2 separate regions of the Homo sapiens genome follow, and region 2 is linked to region 1. Evidence: fine-mapped expression QTL. A gene starts in region 1. The other region holds a variant in brackets. All regions are shown on one strand. Distances are from middle to middle.

Region 1 (12,618 bases):
TATATTTATATTTATAAATTTTTAAACTGTTATATTTATTTTGATAATTATATGTAATCTATAAATGTGTATATACACATTCGGTTTAGTTTTCTTCTTTTGATGTAAAATTTACATTTAATAAAATGCACAAATCCTGGTACATTCTATGCATCTTGACAAATGGTTACATCTGCACAATTCAAACTTCTCAAGACACATAAAAATACCATCACCCCGGAAAGTTCCCTTGTGCCTCCTCCCAGTCATTTCCTACTCCACACTCCCTGAGGAAACCACTGTTCTGATATTTTTTCCACCATACATTAGTTTGCCTGTCCTGGAATTTTATATAAACGTAATTATACAACATGTATACTTTAAGCCTTCTTTCATTCAGTATCAGTATATTGTTTTTGAAATGTATCCATGTTGTACGTAGTAGTAATTGGTTTCTTTTTATTGTATTCAGATATTTTTCAAGGCCTTCAAAGACTGGGACTGGGCTAAAACTCCCTGCATCTCCCATGGCACTTGTACAGAATCCTGTACCTTGTAAGTGTTCAGTTAACATTTGGCGACTCAATGGATGAATAAACATTTGAGTTATATAATTAATCAATAAGCCATTTAGACACAATCAAGTTTTGCTTTTCTTATCCGGCGAGTCTTTTACACGTTCAACTTACCATACACCGGCGTTACATATCCTGGCTTCAGAAGCCTGCCTGCTTTACTGTAGGAATCCAGGGATCCGCCCATATGCAATTCTGCAGCCTTTGCTGCATTCATGCAGCAGTGAAGTACTGGCGAGAAACTGAACTCCTGCCCTGGACAGCATCCAGCATGGCTGTGAAAGAGCCAGACTCGGGGCTTTGTCTCTTGCAGACAGAAATGCTTATCCTCTACCTTTGCAAACATTAAAGCTTACATTCCTCCCATTGATTTATTAAACCACTGTAAAGGTCAGCAAAGAAATTCAGGTGCCGCATGGAATATATATGTATTTTTTTGTGGCTGGTTGGTGCCCGAAGTGTAGAAGCAGCATGTATTTCCTTGCAGTCGGGAAAGCACAACTGAACAAACAGGGTTAGTACTGTCGGCTCTAACCAATATCCCTGTGACCTGCCTGAAATGGCTGTCCCCTGTGTAACCCTCTTACCTCTGAGTCTGGTGACTATGATTAAGGACAAGGCATAGCAGAGCAGGCCTCTGGGAAGAAAACACATTACCTTCGCTAGTTTTCTGGAGCGAGCATTTAGGAGTTTGAACCTATCACCATCATTTCTGCTTGGACAGCAGTGAGTTCCCATCATTTCTCATACTGCACGTGTTCTGAATATAAATGTGCTTTCCATCCTTAATCTATTCAAATGACATTCTCGTTCCTGCTGCAATCTAAATTTTATATAGCCACATAGCACACTTTATGATGCATCGCTTCAAAATATGGTGCTGTAAAATAGACATACTTGATAATAAAATGGGAAAAGTTTTCTTTCAAACAAACATATTTCCCAAGAGATGAAGGAGACTCACGTATGATTCCTGTCGTGAGCAAAATATACAAAGAAATAAACTGGCTACAAGAAACAGAGATGAAAGATCTTTGTGATTTCAACAAGCTATACATTTCTGTTGACTTTATTCATGCTGCTTTGGAGAAAGTTAAAGACTTGCAGAAAGCATTATAAACTCCAATAATGAGGTGTTCAGTGCCAGCATTTTTTTCTTTTATTCCTTAGAGCAACTTTTAAGGGCACGTTTCCAAAGAAAACCCATTTACAAGGGTGGAAAATGAAGATACTGTAATCAGAAAAAAAAAAAAAGTGGAAGTCGTGATGTGGCCATTTTAAAGAGTTAGGTCAGCTAATTTGCATTTTAGCTTATTAATTCCTGAAAGGGTGTTTTGTAAATTGATGTTTAGAGTTGCATGTAAAATGTTACAGTGCCAGTTATGTGTCATGTTCCACTGGCCACACCCATTTTATTTTACATTGGGATATTTGAGAAACCTACAACAATCATGTAGTTTTTTGCTGCCACTAGCTGCCCAAATGGAGCATGCTCGTTAATGGTTTCCTCATGGTGCAGAAGAATTCAAATTGGTGTCCCCAAAGCAGGATAGGTTTATTATATGCACGCTAAACTCTGCAGATGGCAGACTTCGCTTATCAAATTCCACAGAGACATAAGGAAGCAGTAAATGCCAATGGCTGCAGTTTGTGGAATGAGTAGAACCCTCAGTCTGGAAGCAGGTGGAGCTTAGGTTTGAAGGAGCTGTGTGAGTTGGCAAATTACTTACTTCTCTGGGCCTCAGCTGTTTGCTCTGAATAATAGTGACCATCTCCAGGTGATCTTGTCATTATTCAATACAAGATAGCAAATGCCTGTCATATAGCAGGTATCTTGCATGCATTTATTTACTGGGTTTCCTTGCATCCACGTACCGATGCCAGCTTTGGTGACACTGATGTATCTACCTGGTGGTGAGATGGATGGAGACTCATCTGCTGATCGGCTGTTCTTTTTCTTTTCTTTCTTCTTTTTTTTTTTTTGAGATGCAGTCTCACTCTGTCACCCAGGCTGGAGTGCAGTGGCGCGATCTCAGCTCACTGCAACCCCGCCTCCCAGATTCAAGCAGTTCTCCTGCCTCAGTCTCCTGAGTAGCTGGGATTGAAGGCATGTGCCACCACACCTGGCTAATTTTTTTGTATTTTTAGTAGAGACGGGTTTTCACCATATTGGCCAGGCTGGTCTCGAACTCCTGACCTTGTGATCTACCCGCCTCGACCTCCCCAAGTGCTGGGATTACAGGCATGAGCCACTGCGCCCGGCCGACTCATCCGCTGTTCTGTCCTAGGACTTCTGCCAGAGCTTATTGGTGGTAGGAGAACTTGACTTTTTTGACTCTTGGACTGAGGCTTTTCATGGGCCCTACCCTAAAGCTGACCTTTTCAAAAACACATGCCAATACAGAACTTCCTGCTTTCTCAGATGGCTTTAGAATAATAAAATGAAAAGTCATCAGTCGCCAGGTCCCATCTATCTGAAACTTTCAGGCTCTGCTGGCACTGGAGAAGTAGAATGTTTTCAGTGGTTCTAAGAGTTATGCCTTATGTTTTTTTTATTATTATTACTGTGAAGATATTTGCTTTTTAACTAAATGACCTGGGACAGTTCTTTGGAGGGTTACAGAAGTATTAGGGATAACCAGAGTGGTAGGAATTCTGTTAAAGGGGTCATCAACATACTTCCATATTTTTAATCTCCCAGGAGCATGTTTTGTTGATAGCCCTCAACCAAGTTCAGGTTTGCAGAGAATATGTTTAAAGGGGAATAAATGCATAAGGGTGTGACAAGACTCAAAAGCCTCCTTCTAAAGAGACTGCGACTCTACTACAAACAGCACTAATCAGAAACATTTATGGTGAGGGAAAGAAAAAGTCAATATATATATTCTACCTAAATAGGTTTTCTAAAGTTGTTCACTTTGCTTTGCCACACAAAGCAATGCCATGTGTGCTTTTAGAGCAAAATGCTGGAAAGAGGATTCAAAAAGGAGGATGACTGGACAGAATATTAAAGAAGAGGCAGGCACCTGGCAGAGGAAGGCTGAAGATAGAGTAACCAAAACTCAGACCCCGGCTGGATTCGGGAGTCCTGCAAAGCAAGGCTGTCGTGGAGTATGAGGTGGCCAGGCCAGGAGATATTTAAAAAGACCAGAGATCGATAAGCCTAAACGCTGTGGATCTGCCCCTTCCCCCACTCTGTGGGCCGGGTTCAGCACAGGAAAGGGTCCCATTCTCACCCTTTGCTCCTGTGTTCCTCTTTTTTCCAGCTACCCAGGGGACGGCAGGCAGCAGGTGCCCCAATGGTTTCTTCTCTCTGAAGCATCCCTCTGCAGCACCCGCCGCCCCTCTCCTTTCTGGGCAGCCTCCTCTGCAGTCAAAGGCTTCAGGGAGGAGCCGCGGAAAAAAAGAAAAAAAAAAAAAAAAAAAAAGAAAGAAAGAAAGAAAAAAAACGCTGATGGACTTAAGATCTGAGGGTGACCTGAAACTCCGGGGAAAGACAGCTGGCACAAAGGAAACGAATTCATAAATACCTGAGAGTGTGTTTTATGCAGACTCACACACACTGAGTGTGGAACAATGAGGTTTGCAGGGAGCAGGTTAACAAAATAATCCATTCTGCCATGCTTCATCTACATATGGGTAATTGGGAGGAGACAACTCTATGGCTTATCTGGGTCCTTGTTCCACCCTCCGCCTCCAGAGAAGCCTATTCCACCCTTGAATTTCATGAGTGAAAAGACCAAGGATAGCTAGGCTATGAAAAGTCAACAGAGTAAGTACCCTACCAAACCTGCCAGGGACAAACAATATTCAGGACAGCCTCATGACCTTAGGCTTGAAATCTAGAATATTTGGGCATGGATGGTCCTCTGAGATCACTTAGTCTTGATAGATTTAAACTACTAATTTCAATATTTGTGAATTTGCATTATTTGCGACAACAGACATTGTTTAGAAACCCGAGGAAAGTTATCTGCTGCAGTCTATCATGAGGACGGTGGGCTATCACAATCACAGGTATTTTTTTTGGGGGGGGGGATGAGAAAGGGCCTCTGAGGATAAGCCTCACCCCATCCTTTCCTCGGGAGAGGAGTGAAATGTCTCCAGAAGCAACTGCACCACTGCAAATACTTCACCCTCCAAGTATCACAGGGGAAGCCATTCCGGCTTCTCTATTTGAAAACAGTTACCATATTCCCCCTCAGTTTGCCTCTTAAAAAAAACATAAGTTGCACATCAAATGCTGCGATATACAAATAAAACAAAAACTAAATGCTTGCTCAGATAAATCTTAGGTGTTTCGTGTAAATCTCTGCAATCCCTCCATGAAACCTGGGGGACTCCTAACATCATGCGTGTGAAAATGCCCTGCAAACCGTAGGGTTGTATCCACGTGCGCTACCGCGTGCGCCAGTTTCAAGCATCTGGGTGCTTCCTGAAGGAAATCCATGCATTCCTGACTGCATCTGTTTTCGGGTTATTACATTGTATCGGGGGAAGAGTCACGCGGCTATGGCTATTTTCTATCCGTTCCTGAAGAAGCCTGGGTGCCGAGTTCTCCTCCCCAGAGACCACACCCAGCGCTCAGGGCTGGCCGCAGCGGCTTCCCTGAAAATCAGCCAACTGCAAGGCTTATCGAAATCATCAGGTCGTGTGCTACACATGTGTAAAAAGAGGAAAGCGGACTTTAAATGTGCTGCGGTTGGTGGTAGCAAGCAGGAATTTAGCTTGGTGAGGATCCAGGCAGCTTGAAGCTCCCGGCTGCGGAGCGCGCGGCTGCCTCAGCAAGTCAGTCTCTGTGTTTCCAACTCTTTCTCTGCCCTCCACCACCCACACACTGCAACACGTTAAAGCCATCTGCGGCTTCATTCTCAGTTAAGAAATGTGAAAATCTAGAAACACTAACAGGCGGATTAACTGCTGTAAAGGTTTAAAAATGCTAAACCAATACCTGCAGTAGTGCCGCAGTTTCACGAGTGTGTGTGTGTGTGTGTGTGTGTGTGCGCGCGCGCGCGCGCACTCGCGCGCACATTCCCTATGTGTTAAGCAGCTCATTAAAGAAAAAGAAAAATAATCAGGAGAAAGGAAGATGAATTGCAGAAAGTGCCAGAAAGCTAGAAAGAAATTAAAACTCTTCTCCATACATACTGCATACACATAACCTAGCCTATTTATTTGTATCTAAAATTCCCTAGCCGCACCATCACCGTAAACACCAAGGGAAAAAATTAAGGAGGTTCCTGGTGGGAAAAGGGCGAGTTGGGGGGACAGGGTGTCTGCGAGGTGACGGGATACAGAAAACTAGGGTGTCAAAAGGGAGCAAGAACCTGTTTTGGGGGCAACTTAAGGATCCAAGTGTCACGGGGTCTGGGCAATGCAGGACGGGAGGGGCTGCGTGAGTGAGTACAGAAGGGAAATGAGTGAGGGGGCATGGGATCTCAGAGAAAATCAGGGCCCTCTGAGCAAAGTGGAAAGGACGACCGCCGCAGCTCCTCGGGCCGTAGCTCGACCCCGCCTTCCCTTTTGCGCAGAATCCTCGCCTTGGCTGCAGCAGCGCGCTGCCCCCACTGGCCGGCGTGCCGTGATCGATCGCAGGCTGCGTCAGGAGCCTCCCGGCGTATAAATAGGGGTGGCAGAACGGCGCCGAGCCGCACACAGCCATCCATCCTCCCCCTTCCCTCTCTCCCCTGTCCTCTCTCTCCGGGCTCCCACCGCCGCCGCGGGCCGGGGAGCCACCGGCCGCCACCATGAGTTCCTTCAGCTACGAGCCGTACTACTCGACCTCCTACAAGCGGCGCTACGTGGAGACGCCCCGGGTGCACATCTCCAGCGTGCGCAGCGGCTACAGCACCGCACGCTCAGCTTACTCCAGCTACTCGGCGCCGGTGTCTTCCTCGCTGTCCGTGCGCCGCAGCTACTCCTCCAGCTCTGGATCGTTGATGCCCAGTCTGGAGAACCTCGACCTGAGCCAGGTAGCCGCCATCAGCAACGACCTCAAGTCCATCCGCACGCAGGAGAAGGCGCAGCTCCAGGACCTCAATGACCGCTTCGCCAGCTTCATCGAGCGCGTGCACGAGCTGGAGCAGCAGAACAAGGTCCTGGAAGCCGAGCTGCTGGTGCTGCGCCAGAAGCACTCCGAGCCATCCCGCTTCCGGGCGCTGTACGAGCAGGAGATCCGCGACCTGCGCCTGGCGGCGGAAGATGCCACCAACGAGAAGCAGGCGCTCCAGGGCGAGCGCGAAGGGCTGGAGGAGACCCTGCGCAACCTGCAGGCGCGCTATGAAGAGGAGGTGCTGAGCCGCGAGGACGCCGAGGGCCGGCTGATGGAAGCGCGCAAAGGCGCCGACGAGGCGGCGCTCGCTCGCGCCGAGCTCGAGAAGCGCATCGACAGCTTGATGGACGAAATCTCTTTTCTGAAGAAAGTGCACGAAGAGGAGATCGCCGAACTGCAGGCGCAGATCCAGTACGCGCAGATCTCCGTGGAGATGGACGTGACCAAGCCCGACCTTTCCGCCGCGCTCAAGGACATCCGCGCGCAGTACGAGAAGCTGGCCGCCAAGAACATGCAGAACGCTGAGGAATGGTTCAAGAGCCGCTTCACCGTGCTGACCGAGAGCGCCGCCAAGAACACCGACGCCGTGCGCGCCGCCAAGGACGAGGTGTCCGAGAGCCGTCGTCTGCTCAAGGCCAAGACCCTGGAAATCGAAGCATGCCGGGGCATGAATGAAGCGCTGGAGAAGCAGCTGCAGGAGCTGGAGGACAAGCAGAACGCCGACATCAGCGCTATGCAGGTGCGGCACGGCCAGAAACACAGGGGGGCGGGGGACTCGAGCAAGGGGGGGAGTTGGTGCGCCCAGAAAGTGGAGACCAGGGGTGGTGCGGCTGCACGCAGCTCTTAGGGATAGGGCTTGGCTCCTTGGCCACTGTGTGGGAGGGGTGGGGCACTTGAAGGGCGTGAGTGCGGGCGCCACTGTAGTCTGGGAGTGTGCTCCGTGCTGCTGCACCGGCGTTCCGCATTAAAGCTGCCCAGCCCTTGTTGGGTGGGGGAGGGGAAGACGTGGGAATTGGGCGTTGCCTCCGGCCTGCAGTGAGATCAGCTCTCTACTGACCTGCATTAACCACAAGTTACTTTGCAGCAACTATCGGATCATCTAGTTAATAAATAGTAGAGTGAACAACTCTCAATTAATTCTGAAGGATTACTGTGACCAGCATGCTTTATGACTAGTTTTACCAACCACTCCCTTCCTTTATTTAGTAGGTAGACAGGAAAATAGTCAACATTGTTTTAGGTAGTTAACTAGTGATGTTCATAGTAAACCATTTCCTTTTACCTTTTTTTTTTCTTTTTTTCTTTATGTGTAAAATCTTCTACAACATTTCTGTTTAAACATCTCCATCTTCTGGGGAGTAGAAAAAATACAATTTTAAAAAGATCTCCATTTTAAAACATCTCCATCTTCTGGGGAGTAGAAATTTTTTTCTTCTTCTGGGGAGTAGAAAAAATAATTTAGATACATAGGAAATATTTCATAGAAAATAATTTTTTTCTTTTTTTTGTTTACATCTGGCTATTTTCTTCTCATAAAGAAAGGCATTAGTTTCCTGGCATGTAACCCAGCTAAAGAAGAGTTAATCAGTGAATGAGAGACACAGTTTTTCTATCAACTTAGTCTGTTTGCATGCATTTTATGATGATCATTAAACAGTATTAAGTAAAGAAACAGAAGAACAGAATTTTCGTCCATCTTTTTTTTCATCTCAGGCTTCATGAACTTGGGTATTTTAGGCATGAAGGTTTTTCAAAAGATACAGGAAGTTATTCTAGGAGAGATTTTATCAAAGGTGTGCACCTTGATTTTAATCGAAACTAGGCCTTTGCAACTACACTACAGTAAAATAATAGAAGGGATTTATGCTCGGATTTTTTTTTTGTTTTATTTTTGTCTTCAAACAGGACACGATCAACAAATTAGAAAATGAATTGAGGACCACAAAGAGTGAAATGGCACGATACCTAAAAGAATACCAAGACCTCCTCAACGTGAAGATGGCTTTGGATATTGAGATTGCAGCTTACAGGTGAAAATAGAGGGGCAAAGACAGCAGCCATTAAACCTTAGGAAGAAAATCAGATCCCATTTAAAGTTATGTTGGATCAGAAACCTTCAATAATAGTCCTTTTGAAATAATGAAGTGTTAGTTTTTGGCTTCTTCCAAGAAGAGGGTATTTAGATATATAAGAATTTAACCCTGTAATTAGGAGTCCTGTTTTTATCTTGTCATTACACTTTAAATCTAATAGGATGATTTATTTATATTTTTTCTGGTCTCCATCAAAAGATCCCCAGGCATTAAGTATTGATAAATCCCAGCCCTGCTCCTGCTTGCCTTTGTGTTTAGGGTACTCAGAGCAAGTTGTGAAACACAGGTGTTTTTTAACCTCACCTTGCATCTGCATCCCCAGGAAACTCTTGGAAGGCGAGGAGACCCGACTCAGTTTCACCAGCGTGGGAAGCATAACCAGTGGCTACTCCCAGAGCTCCCAGGTCTTTGGCCGATCTGCCTACGGCGGTTTACAGACCAGCTCCTATCTGATGTCCACCCGCTCCTTCCCGTCCTACTACACCAGCCATGTCCAAGAGGAGCAGATCGAAGTGGAGGAAACCATTGAGGCTGCCAAGGCTGAGGAAGCCAAGGATGAGCCCCCCTCTGAAGGAGAAGCCGAGGAGGAGGAGAAGGACAAGGAAGAGGCCGAGGAAGAGGAGGCAGCTGAAGAGGAAGAAGGTATGATAAGAAAAAACCCCTGCAACTTCAAGTGTAAACTGGGTGTGGAGATTTGTTAGGAGGTGGATAAGACAAATGAAGCCTTGCTCATTTATTCATATATGACATTAGAATCATAAATAAATTTTCTGTTTGTTTAGCAAAACTTTCCTAAGGCATCTACTCTGAATGAGGTGATTGGTCAAAATTTTCATTTTTTAATATAATCATTTAACACAGCAGGTTGGTGTCCTAAAGAACAAAAATAGATACCAGACACATAATGAAAGAAATATTGAGGTTAAGTCTTGGAGAGGAGCAGAGCTTCCCATACCTAGAAGTGATCTCATTCGATTTAAATATGTGTTCAGTGGCAAATTATTCATGGCAAGCTTTGTCTGTTACATGTGCTTTTGGAGAGAGTGGAGCTGGGAGGTTTTGGTAGCATTCTGACAGTTGTGTTTGCAAATAAAACCTTTGCAGACATGTTTTGACTGGACTTACCCTGGATTTGCATTTTGTACATTTTCTTTTTATGTTAAAGCTGCCAAGGAAGAGTCTGAAGAAGCAAAAGAAGAAGAAGAAGGAGGTGAAGGTGAAGAAGGAGAGGAAACCAAAGAAGCTGAAGAGGAGGAGAAGAAAGTTGAAGGTGCTGGGGAGGAACAAGCAGCTAAGAAGAAAGATTGAACCCCCATTTCCTTAATTATTTCAGGAATAATTCTCCCGAAATCAGGTCAACCCCATCACCAACCAACCAACCAGTTGAGTTCCAGATTCTATGTGAATTAAAAAGTCAATATATGTATAATTCTGAGATGACTTAGGTTGGACATTCAATGTTGTGCTATGAATTTCCTCTTTATGCAGAGTATCTGTTTGCTTGCAGAGTGGCTTTCTGGCTTGCTGCCAGCCTGTGCATGGACCACGCTTATGAGTTCAGGATCTACGGCAATGTGAATCATTCAGATGTTTACAATAAAAAACACCACATGAGTAAATGAATTCACTAATGTTAATGTTAAACTTCATGGAAAAATAGTCCTTTGAACCTTCGGTGGTTAGCAATTAAAGACCCTGAGTTATGTGCAATAAATAGTAAATAAAGTTATACCGAATGATGTATTTTTTGCTGTGGTTGTTACTTAATTAAAATACCTTAAAGATGGCACCAATATAAAGTATATACCAGTGGACTATTGACCTCCAATTTTTTAAAAAGTTGAAATTTTAACAATTACCAATACTTTTTTTTCTTCCTTCAATTGGAAATTCTGAGGGATACAGTTATGTCATGATTACTTGTGAAATCTCTCCCCACAAAAATTTTACTGATAATAAACATGAGTAAATGAGAAAGTCTATAAATAACAATAGACTTTGCCTCATAACACGTGTTGTGTTAGGTTTTGGGATGGCTTTCTAGGGAGCAATTCTGAAATTACTTGACAGATACACTCTTTATGGTAAACAGGTCATTTCAGAGTCTAGAGTGCTAACCATTACACTATGGAACCATGATAAATAGGTCATTTCAAACTGATATGTCACAATGCAATATGGATAGAATATGAATCCCATACATTCATCCCTATAACTGCATTTTAAAATATAGTCTAAATATCATGGGAGGAGGTTAAAACCTGAGAACATGGTACAATAAGAAGGAATAATTTTTTATCTATATATAATTTCAGGAGAAGGGATTAAAACTACCAAAGGTTATTTGCCACTCCACTGCAAACATGTTGCCTGCAATCCTGAGCTCATGATTTAGTGTGTTGTTAAGCGTAATTCTGTTGCCTCAAGTAAATACCACTTAATGCTACACATTTTTAAACCTTTAAAAGCTACAGACACAAGTAATGAAATTATGAGTCACTTAAGGGGGGAGGTAATATGCTTGTATGTTACATTGACATTGCTCTGCATGTCTCTACTGGGAGATATTTGGATTTCAATGATAGCTTGACTGGTTGGACATTGCATCAAATACACGCCCCATGTATCCTTTCTGTCGTAAAGTTAAGAACGCTCTTGCATTTGATGTGGAATAAATATAGATGATATTACTATCTGCTATTCTGCCTTTGTTCTGAAACAATTGCTTTGTCAGCTAATTTCATTCAATATTTGTTTTTTAGACGATCTCTATAAGTTATTAATTTAACCTGAAACCAAAGTGGTCTCCATTTAAAGTTACTTAATCCCTTTGTACCACCTATTTCTAGTTAAATATATGTTGCTATGCAAATAGGTAAAGTGCTTCCTTGCCATGATGGTAATGGATTGGAACTATGAAGGCTCTCAGTGTATTGGCTTCTGTAAAGATGAGGCGTCTCCTCAGAAACAAAACTTTTCACATTTCTGCTTACTAGACCTGGGTTGATGTACATGGTAAGTCTCAAACAGATGCAAGCTATGTGCAAAAAGTAACTTTAGCCAAATGGAAATAGCTGGATGCTTTGAGAATTACTTGGTTGAAGTAAGAAAACTGTACCATCCTCTATCCTGTGTGCCATAATAAAATAGTAAAAAACCTAAATTGAGCTTAAAGTCTTTTTTAACATTTCCCCAAATTTGGTACTGTGGTCAGTGCCCCTTTTAACCTGCAGTTCTCTTTCAGTATTCCCTCTCCTAATGAATGATCCCCTCTCTATAATCATCTGATTCCATTAAATGGACTCCTTAAATGACATCCTACCTCCCATTACCTCTCCTCTGCCCCTCTACACTAACCTATCACAGAGTTATAGTGAGAACACCTCCATGTCTTAGATCCTTCCACATCTTTCAATGTCTTAAATCCTTCCACATCTTTCAATTTATACTGCCACCACTCTAACCCTTCTCCCAGGGCCTACTCTTGGTCTCCTTCAATTAGCACCCTACAGCAGGCTAATCTTTTAAAAAGAAAATTTTGATCTTGGCATCTCCCTGAATAGAACCCTCTAATAGTTTCCCACTTTTAATATGAAAACCAAAATCTCAAATGTGATCTTCAAGGCCTGCCTAGTGCTGACTCCTGCCTAGTTCTCTAACCTCATCCCATTGTACAGCCCTTTCCCTCCACTTCCAGCACTCCAGTCACCCTGGTATTCTGTTCTCCCATCTGTCACAGGATTTTTGGTGATTCCTTTTTCTGGAGCACTCATCTTTTCTCTCCTTCCCTCAGCCTTGCCCAGCCGGTTCCTACTGACCCTTCAGATTTAGGCTTAAATGTCATTCTCTAAAGGAAGCCTCCCTTGACCTCTTCTAGTGGGTCAAATTCTTTGAAATATGTACATAAGACTTTGTAGGC
Region 2 (12,618 bases), 51 kb before region 1:
TTTTATGGTTTTAGGTATAACATTTAAGTCTTTAATCCATCTTGAATTAATTTTTGTATAAGGTGTAAGGAAGGGATCCAGTTTCAGCTTTCTCCATATGGCTAGCCAGTTTTCCCAGCACCATTTATTAAATAGGGAATCCTTTCCCCATTTCTTGTTTTTGTCAGGTTTGTCAAAGATCAGATAGTTGTAGATATGCGGCATTATTTCTGAGGGCTCTGTTCTGTTCCATTGGTCTATATCTCTGTTTTGGTACCAGTACCATGCTGTTTTTGTTACTGTAGCCTTGTAGTATAGTTTGAAGTCAGGTAGCGTGATGCCTCCAGCTTTGTTCTTCTGGTTTAGGATTGACTTGGTGATGTGGGCTCTTTTTTGGTTCCATATGAACTTTAAAGTAGTTTTTTCCAATTCTGTGAAGAAAGTTATTGGTAGTTTGATGGGGATGGCATTGAATCTATAAATTACCTTGGGCAGTATGGCCATTTTCACGATATTGATTCTTCCTACCCATGAGCATGGAATGTTCTTCCATTTGTTTGTACCCTCTTTTATTTCATTGAGCAGTTGTTTGTAGTTCTCCTTGAAGAGGTCCTTCACATCCCTTGTAAGTTGGATTCCTAGGTATTTTATTCTCTTTGAAGCAATTGTGAATGGGAGTTCACTCATGATTTGGCTGTGTTTGTCTGTTATTGGTGTATAAGAATGCTTGTGGTTTTTGTACATTGATTTTGTATCCTGAGACTTTGCTGAAGTTGCTTATCAGCTTAAGGAGATTTTGGGCTGAGACGCTGGGGTTTTCTAGATATACAATCATGTCATCTGTAAACAGGGACAATTTGACTTCCTCTTTTCCTAATTGAATACCCTTTATTTCCTTCTCCTCTCTGATTGCCCTGGCCAGAACTTCCAACACTACGTTGAATAGGAGTGGTGAGAGAGGGCATCCCTGTCTTGTGCCAGTTTTCAAAGGGAATGCTTCCAGTTTTTGCCCATTCAGTATGATATTGGCTGTGGGTTTGTCATAGATAGCTCTTATTATTTTGAGATATGTCCCATCAACACCTAATTTATTGAGAGTTTTTAGCATGAAAGTTGTTGAATTTTGTCAAAGGCCTTTTCTGCATCTATTGAGATAATCATGTGGTTTTTGTCTTTGGTTCTGTTTATATGCTGGATTACATTTATTGATTTGCATATGTTGAACCAGTCTTGCATCCCAGGGATGAAGCCCACTTGATCATGGTGGATAAGCTTTTTGATGTGCTGCTGGATTCAGTTTGCCAGTATTTTATTGAGGATTTTTGCATCAATGTTCATCAAGGATATTGGTCTAAAATTCTCTTTTATGGTTGTGTCTCTGCCCGGCTTTGGTATCAGGATGATTCTGGCCTCATAAAATGAGTTAGGGAGGGTTCCCTCTTTTTCTATTGATGGGAATAGTTTCAGAAGGAATGGTACCAGCTCCTCCTTGTACCTCTGGTAGAATTCGGCTGTGAATCCATCTGGTCCTGGACTTTTTTGGTTGGTAAGCTATTGATTATTGCCTCAATTTCAGAGCCTGTTATTTGTCTATTCAGAGATTGAACTTCTTCCTGGTTTAGTCTTGGGAGGGTGTATGTGTCGAGGAATTTATCCATTTCTTCTAGATTTTCTAGTTTATTTGCGCAGAGATGTTTATAGTATTCTCTGATGGTAGTTTGTATTTCTGTGGGATCGGTGGTGATATCCCCTTTATCACTTTTTATTGAGTCTATTTGATTATTCTCTATTTTCTTCTTTATTAGTCTTGCTAGCAGTCTATCAATTTTGTTGATCTTTTCAAAAAACCAGCTCCTGGATTCATTAGTTTTTTGAAGGGATTTTTGTGTCTCTATTTCCTTCAGTTCTGCTCTGATCTTAGTTATTTCTTGCCTGAGAAGAAGTTCTTTTCAACTGAAACACTGCTAAGTTGGGCTGCAGCTGAGCCCAGGCTCTCTAGTCTGTACCTACTCCTCTATTCATTGGTTATTTGGTGTTAAGAGGGGATACTAGGAAGGGGAGGCTGGAGGGTTGAGGATAAATACTTCTGATGCCACGAGTTTACCATAGCGTGATATAAACTGAGGGACGGGAAGGTAGTTGGACCATCTTTCATCTCCCAATTTCTTCTCAAACTTAGTGGGTTAAGGAGGGCAGGTGCCAGAAAAAGGTTCAAGGAACATGTTCAGTTAGGCCTTAAATATGCATTAAACATCTAAACTGTGCACAGAACTTTACTACACAATGTTGATATAACAATGTCCAAGTAAAGATAATTTAATTGTACATTTTTAACTAACTAAAAGAGTAAAATTAGATTGTAACACAAAGGATAAATGCCTGAGGGCATGGATACCCCATTTTCCTTTATGGGATTATTACATATTGCATGCCTGTATCAAAACATCTCATGTATCTCACAAATATATATACCTATTATGTACCACAAAAGTTAAAAACTAAAAAATTAAAAATCAATCCAATACACAGTTTCTTTCCATGAAGTACTAACATGCTAGTTGGGGAGATAAGATTTCTGCAGAACCTCTCTTTCAGGAAGGCTTCATAAAGCTGATGGGTTCTTAGCTGTCTGAGAATATACAAATGTTGGGAAAGTATAGGAGTGGTCTCCATGGTGTCTCAAGGTCCCTACTAAACTTTGGAGACCCTGAGACCTGTTTGATGTTATCATCAGTACCTGTAGCATTGGCTTCATCCTGAGACTTGATCACCTATCTGGCTCACTGAACTCCAGGGGGCTCTAAAAGTTTTTCCCATCCTAAGGCAAACAAACTCCTTCATTGATCCCAAGTGCAAAACCTAAAATGACTGTATAACTCTTTCTACCCTGACCCCACCCCTTTTTCTTTTGAGGACAAGAAGGCTTCAAAATTAAGCCAATCTGCTATTTGTAGATTTGGAGAATGTTCTCCCCTTTCAGATTTTCAGGTTTCAAGTTGCATCCAAAAGAGAAGAGACTCAGTCCTCCTCTCCACTGACAGAATACGACCTCAACATGGGTAGGAAAGTTCACAGACAGAAATAAGCTTTTGGGAAGAATGGAGCCAATGAGGTTTCATAACAGAAGGAGCACAGGATGGAGGAAGAAAGCTAAAGTTTTGCTGATTCACAAATGGGTCCAAGTTCAGGTGAAGACACATTCCCATGTGGGCAGATTGTCCAGTCTTTGCTCCCTTGGTGTCATTTTACCCCCAGTAACAAACTTTAATTATAACAGACCCATAACTCGGCAATTAAGAATAATTTATGTCCCTTTCCTAAGGGAGAATTAATCGCATATGCCAGACAGGATCCCTTTATCATTTTGTTAACTAGATAAGAAGCAGAGAGCTCCTTTTATTCGAGCCACCCTAAATATTGCAGTCTTTGCCATATAGCTCTAGGCAGTAGTTATCTTTCATTTTGTACCAAATACATTCTGAGTTCTCAATCTCTCATTTCAAAACAAATGAAAAACAGAAAGAAACTTAAAAGTAACAGGAACAAACTGTGCTTTCCTCGGCTGTAATCAAATTATTCCTTTTGTCCTGGCATTAGACAGTAGCTGGCAATAAAGAAAACCCCAGGAGCACAATATTCCCGTGATTGCGTCAGCATGGAAGATTAAACTTCCATAGCATTCAGGATGTCTCAGCTTTGCCCCTCAAACAAGAGGCTCTTACTGTCATCTCCACCATTTCATAGTGAAATATGTTTCTGCAGTGTTAGGGAGAATTTATGAGTAGCTCAAAGCTTCCTGTCTGAAGATACTTTCTCCCAGAAGCAAAGGAAAGGCAAGAAAAAAAAAAAATCCAACGCTGAAAATCAAAATAGATCTTTGTTTAGTTTTATTTAAGAAAATTTTATACCTTTGCAAAGCCCATATTGCCTGTGTAGGTTTCTAAACTAGAACAAACAGAACCCTTCAAAAAATTCCTAGTGAAGCAAAACTTTCATAGAATCACAATTTATTCTCTCAGAAGAGATGAGTCATTGTAATTTGGGTATCATGATTCACTCCTGCGCATAACCAGAACACTGGAACAATATTAATTACTCCAGCCTCATTTTCACTACAAAAGTCACTTCCAACTCCATCAGTTTTCAGTCCAAAAGAACATACCAAGTTTGGTAAAGAAACTTGAAGATCATTTTCTCTCTGCTTTGATCTAATTTTTTTAAAAAAAGACTTTAAGTTTTCAGATGATAGATTATATTCTTGAAAGCTGGAACGCAGATGCAGCATCTCACAATTCTACCAGGAACAGAAGAAATCTGGAATTGGAATGGAAGATGAGGTTGCTGTGAGCAGAGAGGGAGATGGGGTTTGTATTAAATTAGCTTCCTAGGCCCACTGTGGTGGCTACACTTGTAACCTTAGCACTTTGGGAAGCCCAGGAGGAAGGATCACTTGAGGCCAAGAGTTTGAAACCAGCCTCGGCAACATAGTGAGAGCCTGTCTCTACAAAAATTTTGAAAAACAAAAAAAGTGGCCTGGTGCGGTGGCTCACACCTGTAATCCCAGCACTTTGGGAGACCGAGGCTGGCAGATCACGAGGTCAGGCATTCAAGACCAGTCTGGCCAACTTGGTGAAACCCCATCTCTACTAAAAATACAAGAAAAATTAGCCAGGAGTGGTGGCAGGCACCTGTAATCCCAGCTACTCGGGAGGCTCCAGCCTGGGTGACAGAGCGAGACTCCATCTCGAAAAAAAAAAAAAAAAGGAGAAAAAGAAAAAGTTTCATAGGCAGACCAATGACTGTGGAGCATCACAGTCTAGGAGTGCAAGGTGAAAACCTTTTTATTTCCACACAGAGGTCAAATATTATTTATATATGCATACCAGGAAATTACTATAGCTGACGTTTCACAAATCAGGGCACCTGGTTCCCTATGACAGACCCCAAGTGTTCCCTGATTCAAGAATTTATGAGACAGTGGGCTCCCAAAGAGGCAGTCAGTCACCTACTCAGTGTATAGCAGTGCCAAAAGACCTCTCTATCCCCAGTGTGCCCCACCCTGCTGACCTTGAGACCCTCCCCATAACGTTGAAATTATCCACTTTTAAATTACTTATAGGTAATTAGAAAAAAAAAAAGGTAACCCAAGGTGATGGTGTATTTCTGTAAGACCCATGATAAAGCTGTTGATAATTTTCTGGCCTCTACGGTACTGTCTTTTTTTTTTTTTTTTTCTGACTTCTTAGGTTGCTAAAGACTCCTTGAGAACTTTATGCAATCGGTTGCTCTTTCCAGAAAAATATACAAATACATGGATGTTAGTGTGTAAATTCAGATGGATCACAAATCTCCTGAAGTCCACCCATGAAAACTACCCGTCTCTTTGCCCCTCAATTCTGAATATCTTCCCAACAGCTCACTCTCACCTCCTGTACAAGTCTCACCTCCTCCATGATGTCTTCCATGGTTTCCCTCATCTGAACACTTACAGTTCATCTGAGCACCATCTTCACTGCTCTTTTGCGCTATTGCAGAAAGTGAGTTTTCTTTTCATTCACTGGTGTCTTGACTTCCTGAATAATGATACGCTCCTCGAAAGCACGCATGTTGTGTTCTTGAACTTTATATCTCCATAGCACTGGGGAGGAAAGAAGGAATTCTGCTACGCCTAATACCCAACACACACTTTCCCTTTTCCAGTGTACATTTCTTTCCTTTTCTTTTTTCTTTTTCTTTTTTTTTGAGAAGCAGTCTCGTTCTGTCACCCAGGCTGGAGTGCAGTGGTGCGATCTCAGCTCACTGCAACCTCCGCCTCCCGGGTTCAAGGGATCCTCCTGCCTCAGCCTCCCAAGTAGCTGGGACTGCAGGCGCCCGCCACCATGCCCGGCTAATTTTTTGTATTTTTAGTAGAGACGGGGTTTCACCGTGTTAGCCAGGCTGGTCTTGATCTCCTGACCTCGTGATCCGCCCGCCTTGGCCTTCCAAAGTGCTGGGATTACAGGCATGAGTCACCACGCCCGGCCTCCAAAGTACATTTCTAATAA[A/G]TTCAACAGTTTCATAAACAACATATTTATTGCAACAATATCACAACATTTTGCAACAGCTTCAGAAATAGTGATTATTTATTGTGACAGTGTTGCAACATTTGTGACAGCTTCAGAAATAGTGGCATTTATTGCAACAAAGTGCAACATTTTAGAAAGTTGCAGCTGATACATGTTTCCTCCTCCCACTCTAAACAGAGACTTCCAACACAGAGGGAACTTGGAGAGTGCTGGGGGGTACTCAGCAGAATGGAAGCCTAACCGTTTCCAGGGAAACAATCAGTAAAGACATTTCCCTGGAAAGCCTGCGTTGCTAACTGCAGTGCCACCCCTGAGGGCTCCATTCATGATTTAAACACTGGATATGAAAAATAATCAGAGATTTAACCAAGGACACTACCAGTTTAAGCCCTTGTAGAGACACTCCTAATTGGAGCAGTTTCGGTGTGATCCCTCTTTTCTCCTTCACACAGGCCCCAGTGGCTTTAACCTACATTTCTGTAAAATTTGGAGCTTCTACCACACACGCATCAGGGGTCATCTCCCTCAAGCTTTCCTGAGAATGAATTTAAAGTCTGATGATTCTTTCAGTTACTTGCCTCCTTGTCATCCATTAGCAGTAAACTTTCACTTTTTCTTCTTTTCCCCTCATCCTAGGATCATGTTACAATTTAGTGGTTACGAGCTTTGGTATCAGACTGACATGATTTTTAACATTACCAGCTGTGTGACCAGGAGAATATGACCTAACCTCTGAAAACCTCAGTTTCCTCATGTGTCAAATGGGAATAATTGTACCAGTTTAAATTTGTTGTAGAGATTAAAAAATGAAACCAGGGCCAGGCGCGGTGGCTCATGCCTGTAATCCCAGCACTTTGGGAGGCCAAGTTGGATGGATCACGAGGTCAGGAATTCGAGACCAGTCTGGCCAACATGGTGAAACCCCGTCTCTACTAAAAATACAAAAATTAGCCAGGCATGGTGTTGGGCACCTGTGATCCCAGCTACTCAGGAAGGAGGCTGAGGCAGGAGAATCACTTGAACCCGGGCGGCAGAGGTTGCAGTGAGCCTACACTCCAGCCTGGGCAACAGAGCAAGATTCTGTCTCAAAAACAAAAACAAAATCAAAAACAAAACAAAACAAAAAAACAAGAAACAATGTGCACAAAGTCTACATTAAAATAAAATCGTGTATACTGCAATGTCTAGCACATAGTAAGTGCTTAAGGAATGAATAGTCCATCACAGTTTCTAGATCCTTTGCTAGGTTATACTGAGATGACTCTAGAAGCCATCAGATTGTGCTAAAATTTCTCTGTCTTGAGTAGATATGAAACTGACTTGGACTGGGACCAAAGGACTCAAGCAATATCCTACCAGGACCTGCTTCCAAATTCTTCAACTATGGACCATAGCTGTAGGAAATAGTAATTTCTACCACAGTGTTGATGTGTACATTAAATCAGCTTTTAGATAGATAGTGTCTAGCCTGCTACCTATCACGCAGGAAGTACTCAGTACAGGCTAGCGTCCCATCTGCAGCAGTTGTACCAGCCAGGGCATAAGAACAATTACCTTCAGGGAGGCTTCTCTAAGAATGTCTGGACCTGGGTTCTCTTTTATATTTGTCCATTTATTTACCATTTCCAGCTTCTTTGTTCCTCCTATAGATCTTCCATCTGGTACCATTTTACCTTAGTCCTTGGATCTTCACCATTTCTTATAGTGCAGGTCTGCTAGTAACAAATTGTCTCAGATTTCATCTATCAGAACATGTCTTTATTGATCTCTTTTTTCCCCCAAGGATCTTTTCATTGGACACATAATTATGACTTTACTTTTTTTTTCAGCATTGAAAAGATGTCTTTCTTTCTTCTTTCTTTTCCTCCCTCCTTCCCTCCTGCCCTCCCTCCCTCCCTCCCTTCCTTCCTTCTTTTGTTTTTGACAAAGTGTCTTACTCTGCTGCCCTGGCTGAAGTGCAGTGGCTTGATCATAGCTCACTGCAGCCTCAACCTTCTAGGCTCAAGTGACCCTCTTGCCTCAGCCTCCCAACTAGCTGGGACTCCAGGCACATGCCACTGGGTCCAACTTGAAAAGATGTCTTTCTGTTGTCTTCCGGACACTTTCTCATAAGAAATCAGTGATCATTGTTATCCTTGGTTCGACGTATGCAGTGTGTCTTCTCTGGCTGCTATAAGACTTTTTTTTTCATCTTCGATTTTTCCGCAATTTGGCTGTAATATGCCTACGAGTAGTTTAAAAAATGTTTATCCTGTTTTGTATTTGTCAAACTTCTTGGATCTGTAATATAATCAGTTTTGGGATTTTTTTTCAAAATTGCCTAATCTGACTCTCTTTTCTTTCTGAAGTTTCTAATTATAATTATGTATGTTAGACTATTTGTGTTGTTCCACGGTTCCTTGAGTTTGCATTTATTTTTTTTCAGTCTCTTTTCTCTTGTTTCTTCAGGTTGAATAGTTTCAGCTAATCCATCTTCAAGTTCACTGATTCTTTTTTCTTGCCATCTCTAATAAGCTGTTAGATTTTTCATTTTAGTTAATGTACTTTTCAGTTCCAGAATTTTGAGATAGTTATTTTCATTACAGTTTTCATTTCTCTGCTAAGATTTCCTATTTCTTCATTTTCAGACCTTGCTTTTTCTTACATTAAATTTTTTTTTTTAATTTTAAGTAATGGGGTCTCACTATGTTTCCCAGGCTGGTCTTGAACTCCTGGGCTCAAAAGATCTTTCTGTCTCAGCCTCTTGGCTAGCTAGGATGCACTGGCATGCACAACTGTACCAGCTTCTTTCATTCTTTGAACACATTTTTATTCAATTTTTTGATATATTTATCAAAGCTGATATAAAATATTTTTCTGCTCAGTTCAATCTCTGAGCCATCAGGTTGGTTATTATTGACTGCTATCTTTCTTGACTACAGAGCATATTTTCTTACTTTCTTGTTTGTCTAGTGATTTTTTTAATTGAATACTAGATTTTGAATAGTATGTTGAAGAAATTCTAAATTCTGTTATCTTCCTCTGAAGAGTGCTAATTATTGTTTAGCAAGCAGTTCAATTACTGGCTGATCACCTTAATCAAGTCATTTCCCAAGTTCCTCTACCTTGATGGGACTTGGCCTTCAAATTCTGTACTCCCCACCCCCCAATTATTTGTCAAGGCTCCGTTTTAGGCTGTGTTACTGCAATTCTGGAATAGGTCTTACTCTAGAACGAGCATGTTTTGACCCTCAGACCAATCCTGCCTACTCTCTATTTTTGAAAATATTGGAAATGAGTCTTGGAACACAGACATGCTATTAATTTGAGTATTTTTTTATGACTGATTTTCTGTTACAACAGCAGAGTTGAGTAGCTGCAGTACAGACCATATAGTCTGCACAGTGAAAATTATTGAACATATTGCCCTTTACAAAAAGGTTTGCTCATCCCCGCTGTAGAGGTTAGCCCTTATTGCTAAACAAAAGCAGTTCTGGTGTCTTAGCTGGATTTCAGGAGTGTTAATAAAGTGTTTTTGAAATCTCTATTCTTTCCAGGTCAGAATTCCAAAGTCTTTGGGCACAACTCTTCCCCCAGCATTGCTAGTATCTTTTCCCCCACAAATATTTGCTAACCTGTGAGTCCCAGGTGGTCTCCTGCTCATCTACAGCCCAGTCCGCAGTCATGACCTCACAAGGGGTCCTCATATGGGATTAGGGTAGTATTCTCTATAAAGCTACCTCCTTGTTGATGCTCCACCCTGCAGATTCAACTATTTCAGCTTTGCTAAACTCTGTTCTCTCTCTGTTCGGCCCAACTCTTGAGCCCTGCTTGGACCTCAGCTCTCTGTGCTACAGTTAGAAAAATCTCTTCCAGCAGAGAGCTGGATGATTTGGGGGTTCACCTTGTAAGTTTTTCTCTCTCAGAAATAACCATCTCTGGCTGTCTGTTGTCCACTGCCAGCCTCAAATATTTTCTCCTGGCTTTCTAGTTGTTTAAAGCTAAAAAACTAGTCCAGTACCAGTTACTGCATCATGACTAGATGTACAAATCCTTAAAGTTCTTTTTAAAGCCTCATCTCCCTCTTGGCAGATGATATCTTTCAGAGTCTGTGGCTCAATTTCTCATTTCTCCTCCAACTCCCAGCTCAATGTGTCTTCTCTTCTTTAAAGAGGCCAGGTTCTCTTAGGAATTTGCTAGTAATTTTCTATTTTCTCTCCCAGGGACATCTGCAGTTCACAGCCCATTTGCAAAAGGAACCAACTAACAGCCCCTGAATGTAATGACTGATGCATCCCTTTCCAACTCTGGTAACTAGCTCTGCCCACTCCCTTTTGTTCCCTAGGATGACTCAGGAAAACGTCCACACACCCTTCATGCTTGTGAGGCTTTAGAATTATACTTCACAACCACAAATCTTGTTAACCTTAATATGCGTGCACATTTCTATCTGTGGAAGAAGAATGATTGATCACAGGCTCATGCACAAAATAATCAATAGATAACCCAGTCAATTCTCATCATGACCAAGGAAAGAAGGAAAATAAAGTTTCATTTATTCAGGAACAGTGATGTGCCAAGAATTCTGCTAAGCACTTTTACATACATAATATGGCTTAATTCTTACTGTGACTTTGGAAAGATGATATTATTAATCTTTGTCTTGAATAAATAAAAACCCCGAGGCTTTGAGAGATTAAATAATTTATACTAGCTCGCAGCAGTCCATGGTGAAGTCCTAAAGCTGGGTAGGTCTGTGTGACTTCAGAACTCTTTCCCAAACATCAAATGACCTCACCAAAAAGGATAAGCCCCGACATGCACAGTTTATAAGGCTACAAGTTTTGTGACTTACTCTTTTAAGTCTGTTCTTTGTTTAAACTGATTTTACTTGCATAAAAATGTTAGGATGGGAAATAGTACATGGTATGCTTTTTCCTAAACTGAAATCAGCCTGTCTGGATACAGGAGAAGAAGCCAAGAATGGAAATAGAAGTGTTGTTGGTTTAAGAAGCCAAATTTTCCTCTTCTTTGATCTTAGTATTTATAAGAACATCATCTATCATTGATTAAGCACCTCTGTCCACCCCTGTGCTAAGCATTGCAGATGCATCTAATTTAAGCCCCTCAGTGAAACTGTGAGGTGGGTGTTATTGCTATGCCCCATTTTTAGAATAAAACAATAAAGTTTGGAAGGTTAAGTAATTTCTAGTAGATGGTAAGCTGCAGAGTCAGGGTCTGACCCAGACTGTAAGATTTCTGTCTGTGCTTTCAAATTCTGTGCTATTCTCCTTTCTAACTGCAACTGCATCTACCCTAAAAAATTTTGATTTCCTAACCTTGGAATTCAAAATAATCCAAACAATCTTGGCTTCTTCAGCCTCCATGCCCATACTCTTTTATGAGATAGTAGAAGAGCCTTGAAAATAGGATTGGGTTCAAATCCAGATCTTAACACTGTAAAAATGAAGAAAATTATTCTTGTTTTGCCAGAGTTGTGAGAGTTAAAAGGGAAAGATGGTCAAATGTCCATTACTTACATGATTGCAGTACTAAGCATGCACCCCAGAGATACAAGTATGGCCTTCTATTTAATTTTATCTGATGGTAGCTGGCAGGGGCAAGTATCTCTGCTTTCAAATAAAATCTTCATGTGTGGTGGAAAAGTCCAAGCTATTCTCTCAAGAACAAAGATAAGGCAACCAACCACAGCTGACAGAGTAGCCTTCCCCTACCCAATTCTGTAAATAATACAGCCTGTCGAAGGGATATGCAAAAACCCATGGGAAAACTTTACAGTCCAGTGTCAAAGTCTGATAGGAAAAGCGGAAAAATAAGCTGTTTCCTAGAACCGAAAGAAAAGCTTTAAACAGCTAGAGAGTGAATCTTATTCCAAAGGGCTGTGAGGACAAGTGATTAATCTGGAGCCCTGTTCAATCGACATCAAAAACTGGTGCGCAGCCTCGGGAACCTTGAAGACCAATTAGATCGAAGTGAAAAAGTGGAGAAATTGGGCCAGAGCCGTGGAGATGTGTGGGCTACAGGCTCTCCCCGCTCCCCCAAAACACCAGCCTCCGTTCCAGAGTGGCCCACGCTCTCTTTCCTCCCGGCACCGATCCTTGCATTAAAGGGATCGGGCTAACCTGGAAGGGATGAGAGTTGAGAATACAATGAGAACGGCACAGATCACCTGTGGATCCCCAAAGACAGCCTTCACCCGTATTCCGCCCAGAAAGGGCAGAGTCACCCTGGTCCCCAAGCCTGGCGCGCGGGCGGCGGCGTCCTTAGTAACGAGGGACTCTAACACCCGCGACGAGCCACTTGGGAACTGGCTTCTCCACCTCCCCGACCCCGCGGAACCTCAGCAGTCAGTCCCTGTTCTGCCTTGGGAAGCTGCCTCGGGCAGCTGCCTCCGAAAGAGCAGAAACGCCACAAAGTTCCTTAAAAGCCAAAGCATTCATGGGGAAGAGGTTCAAGGAGGGCGTATGTGTGCGGAGGTGGTGGTGGTGTTGCGGCACTCGGTGTAGACCAGCAGAATTCCGGACTGGGTGACCGCAGCGTCTTGCACAAAACAGCACACATCTCCCCGGGTGTG

Alleles and levels. Positions count from the first base shown, and alleles are read on the strand shown. Sizes are in standard deviations (SD) of each study's normalised expression.
In carriers of allele A in region 2, the expression in fibroblasts of the gene that starts at base 6,205 in region 1 tends to be lower than with G alone (small effect, 0.22 SD a copy in GTEx).

Evidence for each region. PIP is the estimated chance that this variant, and not a neighbour inherited with it, causes the effect.
Region 2: its variant is fine-mapped to the expression of NEFL in fibroblasts (GTEx, PIP above 0.99).

What each region holds. Positions count from the first base shown.
Region 1 is chr8:24,950,199-24,962,816 of GRCh38, reverse strand. NEFL (neurofilament light chain) reads left to right here and starts at 6,205. Exons shown (of 4, transcript NM_006158.5): 1 at 6,205-7,345; 2 at 8,512-8,636; 3 at 9,022-9,341; 4 at 9,865-11,862. The coding sequence starts at 6,302. The coding sequence ends at 10,007. It overlaps MIR6841 (microRNA 6841), which reads left to right and starts at 8,950; the gene lies at 8,950-9,021. RefSeq lists an enhancer at 7,455-8,654.
Region 2 is chr8:25,001,393-25,014,010 of GRCh38, reverse strand. It overlaps LOC105379330 (a long non-coding RNA gene), which reads right to left. Exons shown (of 3, transcript XR_949591.2): 2 at 5,424-5,617; 3 at 3,970-4,293. Among named protein-coding and RNA genes, the nearest start is that of NEFL, 51 kb to the right of the region's middle. The variant A/G (reference allele first, on the strand shown) is at 6,024.